Linked DNA regions of Homo sapiens: region 1 is linked to region 2. Evidence: fine-mapped expression QTL. A gene starts in region 2. The other region holds a variant in brackets. All regions are shown on one strand. Distances are between the middles of the regions.

The links.
Region 1: its variant is fine-mapped to the expression of ZNF667-AS1 in left ventricle (GTEx, PIP 0.99).

Annotation. Positions count from the first base shown.
Region 1 is chr19:56,566,116-56,571,489 of GRCh38, reverse strand. It overlaps ZNF470-DT (ZNF470 divergent transcript), which reads left to right and starts at 3,469. Exons shown (of 2, transcript XM_047439806.1): 1 at 3,469-4,417. The coding sequence starts at 3,469. The coding sequence ends at 4,407. It overlaps ZNF470 (zinc finger protein 470), which reads right to left and starts at 4,022. Exons shown (of 6, transcript NM_001001668.4): 1 at 3,452-4,022; 2 at 2,607-2,732; 3 at 1,119-1,210. The coding sequence starts at 1,178. RefSeq lists enhancers at 3,583-3,692, 4,073-4,282, 4,293-4,342. The variant TG/G (reference allele first, on the strand shown) is at 2,929.
Region 2 is chr19:56,475,244-56,480,617 of GRCh38, reverse strand. ZNF667-AS1 (ZNF667 antisense RNA 1) reads right to left here and starts at 2,744. Exons shown (of 2, transcript NR_036521.1): 1 at 2,237-2,744. ZNF667 (zinc finger protein 667) reads left to right here and starts at 3,273. Exons shown (of 7, transcript NM_001321356.2): 1 at 3,273-3,346.

The DNA.
Region 1 (5,374 bases), 91 kb before region 2:
CTTAATCAGAACATGAACTGTAGCTCTGAAGCTTCTATTGTTGGCCATAAAAATAATAAAATTTAAAATGTTCTAGGGTAGGGTCAGTTTGAGAAACTTTAATCCACAAGGAATGAAAAACTAGGAATTTAGTCAAAGAAAATAATCAGAGATGAGGGCAAAAATTCAACTACAAGAATAATTACTGCAACACTCTATTAACAGCAGATAATTGTCAACAATTTACCTACGGAACAACAAGGGACTGACTAAACAGATTATGGTATTCAACCTAGAAAGAAGAAAGGATGTAAAACATTCCTTGGCATTTTAAGATGTTCACGGCTCCATGGTCAAATGGGGAGAACAAACCTTTGCATACTCTGTTCAGAATGCCATCAATCCCATATGCCTGCACTTCCTCCATTTCATTCAAGGCGTAACTCAGGAATCACTTCCTCTGTGAAGTCCCCCCAACCCTTCCTGCCCTCAGCAGTGAGTAGGATGGTGCAGGCTATATCCTGCTCAAGGATCCCTCACCAAGGAGGCAGGAAGGAGCTAAAATACGGTAGACTTCCTCTTGCCATATTGTGCGGCCTGTTACAGAGCTTCATCAGTAGAGAGGAAGGGGCACTTTTTTTTCTAATTCACCCAAAGACATCATATGGGCTATTAATGGCCCTTCCCAAGTATTCCACTGTGAGTCTACTCTCTGCTTGCAGCACTTCTCACACTGCGTAAGTGTTTGCTGCCTTTTCATTTCTCCAGCAGATTATAACCTCTCTGAGAATCAGGACTGAGACTTAGGAACCAGGCATGGAAATTTCCTCTGAGGATTGTACTTCTGCTTTGTCAGATGCCTATGAAAAGACTGAGCACAAGGGAAGGGCTCAGACTGGGTCATTTCCTGAATGAAAAATAAACAATGAGCAGGAAGGAGAGAAGGAACCTCTGAGAGGGCACTGGGCTGTGTGAGTCTATCCCTCACTCACAACCCCATCACATATCAGAAAGGGAAGAAACAGGAAACAGGCCTCAGGGTGGAACTCTTAAGCACAATATTTTCAGAAGAAAACAAGTATTACCAAATCCAGAAAAGCAAAACTATTTTAGTGGGGAGAGGGGGAATACTAACTCACCAGGGACATGGCTTTACAAAGTTTAATTCCTGCCACCTCTACCTCTTCCTGGCTCTTCATTTGGAGAAGAGCTTTACTCTGGGATTGTAGAGCTGGGGAGAAAAAGAAGTAGTGAGAAACCAAGTAGCACTAATAATCAAAGTCTGAAAATGCTTTCTTCCCTTCAGCTTCTTCTGTCCTCACTCACAGTCCTCACTCCAACTCCCCCACCCCACAGTCCTGATGCTCTTTGGGAGACTTGAAATATATAGCTGGGGTTCCCCTCTGCTCTGGGTTTTCAGGATGAGCATAATATCTCTTGACCCCCTCTCCCCATCAGCCACCAATTCATTAACAACAGATTTATTAATACTAGCCTGTGTGTGTGTACATTTTTTTTTTCTAAGACAGGGACTCACTCTGTTGCCCAGGTTGGAGTACAGTGACGTGATCATAGCTCACTGTATCTTCAAACTCTGGGCTCAAGGGATCCTCCTGCTTAGGCCTCCTAAGTAGCTAAGATTACAGGCATGTGCCACCATGCCCAGCTAGTTTTTTTACTTTTGATAGAGATGGGGGTCTCACTATATTGCCCAATTGCTCACTATATTGCTTGAGGCCAGGAGGTGTCAACCTCCTGGAGTTAGGTATCTGGTCAACCTCCTGGCCTCAAGCAATCCTCCTGCCTTGGCTTCCCACAGTGCTGGGATTACAAGCATGAGCCACCATGTCTGTGCTGCATATATTAATACTGTCTTTAAATCTCCAAAATCTTCAAACAGAATCGGGTATATTGTCACCATTTTACACAAGAAAGCTCTGGGAAGTCAAGTCTTTTCCACAAGTCACACAAATTTGTAAATAACCTAGTCACCAACCTAGGTCTGGCTGACTCTATCACAGAAGTTATTTGCTCATATACCAGAAAATAACAGAAAATAAGTCCTCTGTGCAGTTGGCCAGGATTTGTGAACATTCTATAAGACAAATTCCATGGAGAATTCCATCTTTTCCAGAGAGAGGCATTCCTTTCGTTACAACAGAGTCCATGTGACTTGCAGACAACCAAATGAAAAAATCCTCATGAGGCCTAGGATCTCATTTTGTTTTGTGACAAACTACAGTGTTGAAGCAGTCCCTTGACTCCACTGAGCCATGTTTCCTTAATTAGGAAGGAAGAGGATAAAGTATCTGAATTAATTCTAGTTTCTTTCATCTAAATTCCACTGCCTTCTCAAAGGATTATCATAATGATGATAAAAATGAACACATTACATGGCAGGGACTATACCAAGTGCTTTACATGTATGAGGTCATTTAATCCTTATGACAGTACTGTGAGGTATATAATATTACCATCTCCATTTTACCTAAGAACTTAGAGTCATAAACTTTTTAAGAAAAAAACCCCAAACCTGCTCAGTGGAGGTTCTGGCATATGAACTATTTAGTTATTTAACCCTTTCAGAGTCAGTTTCTTTAATTGTCAAAAGTGGCTAAGAAACCTACCTGAGGCAGTAGTTGAGGAAACTACATGACAGCCAGTGACTCTGGAGTCAGCCTGTTCTGGATCTGAATCCCGGTTCTTCCACTTGCTAGTGATTACTTATCCTCTCTATGCTTCTGTGTCTTCATCTGTAAAAAAGAGGTAAGTAGTTCCTACTTCATAATGTTGTGAAGTTTGGTGCTGATACTCCCAAAAGGTCTTAGAACTGTGTCTGGCACATAATAAACACTCATTAAACATTAGCTATTACTATAGCATGCAGGAAACTAAACAAGCACAGAACAATATGGCTAAAAATAGCCCTTCCTCCCCCTTTCTCTTTAT[TG/G]GAGTGGGAGGCCAGAGGGGAGGGAGAGAAGCCCAAGGAATGGGGATATCTTCCGTTATTGACTAGAACGTGATTAAGCCATAGAAAGGCTGGAATGCCTCGGCATTTCTGGGTGAAGCTGTGAATCTCGCCTTCTTCCCAAATCCTACAGTGATAGATGGGACAAGGCTCTGACGGGTAAAAATCTAAATGCTGAGCTATTCCTTCAACAGCAGCAGAGTACCCAGAAGTAATGCTATAATGGGTAATATTACGGGTAGTGTTCTCTCCCATGGGCCCTTAGTGATATACCAAGGACCTGAGTCAGGTTATCTGGTTAGGTGTCTCTGGCCAAGTCAAGGTCCCTCCCTAACTAAACCCAGCTCCACTCTGACCCAAGGTGACCCTCCAAATCTTTCGACTTCCAGGTCCACTAGCCTTAGAAACGGGGGACATCCTCCTCCAGCACCTGAACCCCGAAAGACAGCACCCAAAACCTCAATGTCCACTCCGGCAGCCACATCCGTCATCTGTCACTCTTACCTGTGTACTCAGTCCCCATGGTCTTCGCTCCTCGCCGTCCTGTGGACATGGAGCCCTGTCCTGGGCTCTGCCCCTTCCAGATAGGGCTGACAGGAAATGCTTCAGCCGAGGCTGCCCCGCCCGGGCAACTTCCCCGGGCTCTAGGACTTTGCCCACACTGGGCTCTACGCAGTCGATACAGGGGAGAACGGGGTAAGCCTCCTCCGGCCGGGTTTCCTGCTCTTGGCCACTTAAAGTGCTTCACTCATTCCAACACACACCGCCTTCCGCACGCCGCCGGGCCATGCACGCAGGCGCAGATTCGCGGCCACGCACCGGACAGTCACACACCGGGCCGCCATCCCCGCGCGCGCTCGCCCCTCCTCAGCACAGCACCGCACGCTCACCACGTATGGGCACTCACAGCCACCAGGCCACACGCGCACGCTCACGCCCGCCGCCCACACAGGAACCAGGACACCGCCCCCGCCGCGCCCCAGTCCAGCCTCGGCCGCTGCCCCGCCCAGACCTCCCTTCTCCTCAGCAACCGGCGGGACGTGCACTCGCCCGGCTTTGGGTCCTTTCCGGAAGTGGGCGTGTCCTCCGCTGCAATAGCCCCTGGGAAGTGTAGTCCGGAACGGAGGCGGCGTTCAGAAATAGGGCGCTGGCTTTGCCAGGAGCGGCTCCTCTCCAAGCCTGGCGGTCACTGCCCTGTGTCCCCTTTTGGGCCTCTCCTGGTCCTCCTGGTTGGATTAGGAGGCCTCTCAGCCCGGAGTCTGGGTCGCCGAAGTACAGGCCCCTTCACTGAAGCGACCCACGGCGCAGGGGTTTCTGGAAGCCATCGCCAGGCTCCGAGTGTTCAGATGCAGCTGCCAGGCTCAGGACGCAGAGAACTGGCTTCCAGCTCGCAGGAGCGCCTGTCCGTGGTGGGTAGGGTCGCAGGCGTGGGGTGTGCAGGAGCAGTGGGACAGCACTGAAACGCAGTCGGTAAGGCGTAGCGGCTACCCTCTGGAGAGGAAAACCATGACAGGGCGGGGCTTGGGGCGCGGGCGGGGCCTACGCGATAGAAAAGTGAGGAGATTGGGATTTGTCTGCTTTGCACACTTGTGACTTTCTGATGGTGCGCGTGTGGAACCTGTTTTATTTCATGCCTACTAGTTACTGCTCTCTGATATACGGTACGCCCCTCACCTCCCCCCACCCCATTTTATCTCTCCCTGCTGGAAGGAGGGTTCCAAGAAGGCACACAGCTTCCGTCCTGTTCAGGGTTATATTCTCAGTGACTAAAACAGCACATAGTAGGTGCTTAGTTTTTTATTTTTATTTTATTTTTTAGGAAATCACGAAATCTAGCATTGCCAGTCTCACCATGACACAACATGTTATAGGCTGAATATGTCCTCCCAAAATTACTATGGTGAAACCCTAACCCCTAGTGTGATGACGTTAGGAGGTGGGACTTTGGGGAGGTAACTGGTTTTAGATTAGGTCATAAGGGTGATACCCTTATGATGGGGTCAGTGCACTTATTAAAAAAGAGGAAGGAGGGGTCTCCATGTTTACACAACCACCAAGCAAAGGCCATGTGAGGACACAGCAGGATGTAACCCATTTGCAAGCCAACGGGGCCCTCACCAAGAACTGAATGTGCCAGCACTTTAACTTCCCAGCCTCCAGAATTGTGAAAAATAAAGTCTCTTAGTCAAGTCACTTAGTCTATGATATTTTGTTATAGCAGCCCCAGCTGACCAAGATACAGCATCATAGATACTGGCTCACCAGAAACTAACTCACCCTCCCAGTCACACTCAATCACCCAAGGCCACACAGTGACATCTAGACTGGACTCTCCTGGATCCAATTTATGTCAGACATCATAAACAACATAATAAAGCCAAGTCTAGCTGTGAAGATACTTTAACTATGAAACAGCAAATATCATCT
Region 2 (5,374 bases):
GGACAAAAGATTCATGTGAGAGGGGAACCTGTTAACAAGCTGAGCCTCTTTATCTCCCCATTCTCTGTCTAGGGATAATTCCTCAACTACAGTGGACAGAGCTGGAATCTGAGCCAAGCGGAGCAGTCATGCTGAGTTCAGGAAGCCTCACTGCTAAATGCCACCTATCAAAGTGGCCTCCCCTGACCATCCTGTGTAAAATAATCCCTCCTTCCTCTCTAGACTTTCTAGCGTCTTTACCCTACTTTTTTTTTTTTTTTTTTTTTTTTTAACAAATTAAATCTTGGGCTGGGCGTGGTGGCTCACGCCTGTAATCCCAGCACTTTGGGAGGCTGAAGCGGGCAGATCACGAAGTCAGGAGAGTGAAACCATCATGGCTAACAAGGTGAAACCCCGTGTCTACTAAAAGTACAAAAAAATTAGCTGGGTGTGGTGATGGACACTCGCAGTCCCAGCTACTCGGGAGGCTGAGGCAGAAGAATGGCCTGAACCCAGGAGGCGGAGCTTGCAGTGAGCAGAGATCACGCCACTGCACTCCAGCCTGGGCGACAGAGCAAGACACTGTCTCAAAAAAAAAAAAAAAAGATTCCAGATACTCTGGAGCTGTCATAGGATCAGGTATTTAATTTATGCCTGTAATTCCCATGGGTTCCTGGGGCAGGGGGGGAAGTGGTGGGGAGTCCTGAGGTGAGAGTGAGGGAAGGTCTGACCAAATCCAAGACCAGGACTAGATTCTGGACCTGGGCTCTGGGACAAACTGTCTTAGAAAACTCATGGGTGTCTTGGGAGATAGTTGCTTTATTCGGAGAATGGGCACAACAGAGCCTGATCAGGAGCCAAGACATCCGACCCACACACTCTGGTTTCTCTGAACTAGGACAGTCTGAGGCATAAAGCTTTTTCCCAGATTTTCGCACTAACATGCCCCTAAAACAGCAGAAAGGATGACATACTTTCTTGGGAGGTGGTTTAAAGAAAACAAAGAAACTGCCAAGTGACAGATTTATCCTAAGATTTCTTGGATCTCTTGACCACACCCCTTATTCTAGTATTACCAGGTATTTAGAACAATCTCCAGTCTAGAAAGAAACTTGCTCCAAGGAACAACTCAGAGAACGGCTTACAGGATTAAAGAAAACCTTAAATGGAAAAATTCACTTTTGACCAGGGACAACAATCAGTAAGTGCTAGCTGCTAGTCACAGAGGTAATGGTAAAAGTCCTAATAGTAGTATCTGTTAGCTTTTATTTTTATTATTGCTACTACCTAATCACAGAAATGGGAAACCAAAACTAGTTCCTCACACATTCTCCCTACTACCTAGTCCCCAAAACTTGCTCAGAGTCACCTGGGAAGAAAGAAATCACAGGCCCTGGGTTCCCCTCACACATATACCCACCTATGCAACTACAAAAACTGGGTCTCAACACACAGGCGGGTACACACACACAGAGTCAAAAACACTGGCTTTCCTTGGCCGGTCGCGGTGGCTCACGCCTGTAATCCCAGCACTTTGGGAGGCCGAGGCGGGCGGATCACGAGGTCAAGAGCCCACATGGTGAAACCCCGAATCTACTAAAAATACAAAAAACTTAGCCGGGCGTGGTGGCGGGCGCCTGTAGTCCCAGCTACTAGGGAGGATGAGGCAGAAGAATGGCTTGAACCTGGAGGCGGAGGTTGCAGTGAGCCGAGATCGCGCCACTGCACTCCAGCCTGGGCGACAGAGCGAGACTCCGTCCCAAATCAATCAATCAATCAATCAATCACTGGCTTCCCACACACACACAACACTCATCCACAAAAACTGGCTACGGCTCGAAACCTTAGTCGGATAGTATTTTAGGCTTTATGGGCCACAAGATCTCTGCTGCAAGTACTGAACCCTGCCATTGTGCAAAAGCAGTCATAGAATAGACGTAAATATACACAAGTATACATATTCAAAATGTGTGGTTCCCCACAGAGACGTACACACCGCAAAAACTGGGCTCTAGAGTCAACAGTAAATAGTTCAGGCTTTGTGGGGCCACACAGTACCTGTTCCCACCTACTCAACTCTGCCCTTCCGCAGAAGTGGATGCAGAAGCTAAACAAATGTCCAGAACATACACACATATTCAAAATCAGTGCCCCCCGCCACGTACAAAACCACAAAAATCGCCTCAGAGACACACGTATAAGAAAACACAAAGGTTCGTCCTCACACATGTTCAGGGTAACACAATGTGGGTCTCACCTACACAAACGCGCGATCAAAACCCGGGACCCGCACGCCCAGATGACCGGGACGAGGCCATACTTCACATCTTCTCTCACAGACTCACAATTACGCAACGGTCACCTCAAACGACTTTATGGCGGACACTCCCGGACCTTCCGCTGTCCGCCCCTCCTCGTCCCTTCTCCCCGCCGGGGTGAGCCTCATCCACCCAGTCTCAACCCCGACGCAGTCAGTCTCACTGCCAGCCCGCCGGCTACGCAGGCGCAACACCGCATGGAACAGCCCCCAGGGCGTGCAGGGGCCGTTGGGAAATGTAGTCCGAGCGCCACGCAAAGGACTGTGGGCCTCTTCGCAAAACGTGCAGGTGAGTCCCCACTGTTGGCCAAAAGAAACATCCCTCCGCTGCTCTCCCGGGTCAGTTCATCTCCGACCCGGACAGAGCAGAACCAGCGCAGCCCAAGCCTTCTTCACCTCACGTTCTGGGTGGGACTTTCCACAGCCTCGCTGCACCCCGGTGGATTCTGGAGGTCGCAGGATGACTGCGTAGTGCGCACGCGCGGGTGGGCGGTGTCCGCCTCCGCGGGTGAGGCCGGCTCCAAACCTCGTGAATGTGGGGGCGAAGGACGCTGGCTGGCTGGAGGCAATAAGCCCTCACACGGGAACGTGTGGTTGTGGGAGCGGGGAAGGCGGCGAATTGGGGAGGTTGGGTTTGGTTAAAGAGCTCGAGGAAGGGCCTCAGTGTCCACACGTGATCTCCTGAGAGGATGAAAAGCAGGGCCAGGCGCCAGTCCCCTAGGAGACCGGTGTGCGTGCCAGCCTCGGGGGTGTGCGCAGGCGCGGGACCTCGCGCGTCCGCCTGCACCAATCGTGCGAACGCGCTTGTGCGTGTGGCGCTGAGGGGTCGGGGCCTCAGGCCGGGGCTGGTGGTACTGTCCCCGAGAGGCGGGTGAGCGCACGCCGCGTGGCCTTGTTTGGGGGCGGGGCCACGCGCCCGCATGCGTGGTGCGTGTGTGAAGGGGGGTGCAGCGCGCGGTCCCGGGGTCCCGGAGGGGAGTGCGCAGGCGCTGAGTCCCTGCTCGGCTGTCTCGGTGGTCGCCGCCGGGGTCTGAGCCCGGGAAGACCGAGGTAAGGGGGCTGGCGAGAGTGTGGGTGTGTCTGAGGGCGTGGGCGGCGCGCCCGCCACTGCGTGGACGTTCCTGCCAAGGCGCGCGTGGGTTTGCGCATCCACGATGGCGTGGGCGTCTGCGCGGGTGCTTGCGTGGGCGGTGGGCTCGCGCCTGCGTGGGTTCTCGGCCCGCCACGGCGTGGGGTTTGCGCCCTTCGCTGCTGTGGTTCTCGGGGCTTGTGCGCCCAAGTGTGAAGTTGGCGCCGCGTGTGAGGCGAGCCGTGTGTGCCTGTGTGTGAGGGAGCTATGTCGGGACCGCGGATGTGTATCGCTGCGTGACCCACGCGAAGGAAACAATGGAGCCATTGGGAAGCCGGGAGTGGGTGTGTGACGCTGACTGTGAAGATTTGTGTTTCTGGAGTGTGTGCGTGTGTCAGTGTCAGGCTGATGTGGGCGTTTATTGTAGCCTTGGGTTACTGTGTGACTTGCCTGGGCGTCTGTCTGCCACTTAGCGTCAGTGGCTTTGCGGTTATGAGTGTGTGACTGTGCCTTTCTGGTGTATATCTCACTGTAACCATGGAAATGGAGGCCCACAGGGGAAGAATTCTTAGCAGCTCTAAGATGTGATGGGCTGCCCTGGAAATCTGTGGAACTGTTTAATTGTGCATGACTTTCCTCCTTGGTAAAATAGCATATTAATAGCACCTGCCTGGGTGTTATTGGGAAGATTAAATGGGATGACGTAGCTGAAACACCCTGCACAGAGCTTGTCACATACTAATCACCGTGTTTAGGTGTTGGTTATGGTGCTGGTGGTCGTTTTTCTTTGACCCTATACAGAGGCAGAGGTAGTGGTGAATACTGGAGGACTTTGCATCTCTGAGCTTCGGACTGGGCTATCTTTGTCCACATACCAGGGCATCTGACCATCTCCAGTTGAGCAGTGGTGCGCTGCCCCCGCCAACCACCTGCGTCGTCAGTTTTCTGCATGTGTACATTTGAGTGGAGGACAGAGCCCTCCACTGACGCTAAGTATGGTTGTGTCCCCTTCCTACCAAGGTAGCTTGGAAAAATAAGAGCATGGACTGTGGCGCCCCGCTGTCTGGTGTTGACTCCTGGTTTCACCACTGGCTGGCTGTGTGACTGAGAGAGCTTACTTAAGTCCACCACTCCTCGGTTCACTTGTAAAACAGTAGTAATAACAGAACCAACCTCAGGTTTATGGTGAGCATAAGTAGAACTTGGCACAAGGAAGTGCCACATCAATGATCATCGTTTTATTATTAGCATAATAACCGCAGGCGTCCCACACCTGGAGAATAAAATCCATAGGTAGAAATGCAAAAGGATGAGCCCCAGAGTAAGGGTTGCAGGTCCAGAGGTAAAATAACTTGGACGTCTAGATCAGGGCTTAGGTTCAGAATTGTGTAGGCAGGGTCCTGGGAGGGCAGCATTAGGGTAGAGGAGGTGGGGTCAGGAACAAAGGATCTTCCTGATGGAGATGTCCCTAGGGAGCCCATGGGGTCAAGAACAGAACTTTGAAGTGTCAGGGACTAAGGGATGTTTCCATATAACACATGGGTCTGGAAATGTTTCTGTCCAGACCAGTGTTTCACAGCCTTGGCACTGTGACATTTGGGGCCAGATAGTTTTTTGTTGGGAGGTGGGAGGGGCTGCTATTCTATGTATTATAGGATGTTGTGCAGCAACCCTGGGCTCTATTTACCAGGCCAGTAGCACACCGCGCCTCCCTCTGGGTTGTGACAAGCGAAAAAAAAATGTCTCCAGACACTGTCAGATGTCCCCTGCAGGGGCAAAATCACTCTGATTGAGAGGACCGTGATGCAAGCGCATGGACAGACCGAAGGCATGATGACAGGGAGAAGAGTAAGGGAGCTGGGGAAGGCGGGGCACGGAGAGATGATAAAAGGATAGTGTTCTGAGATGAGAAGAAACGGCCTGCAGCCCGGGTAAGCTCCGAGATGCATTCATTCATTCAGCCAGTGAGTGCCTACCATGGATTGGGCACTGTGCTAGTCTCTCAACAA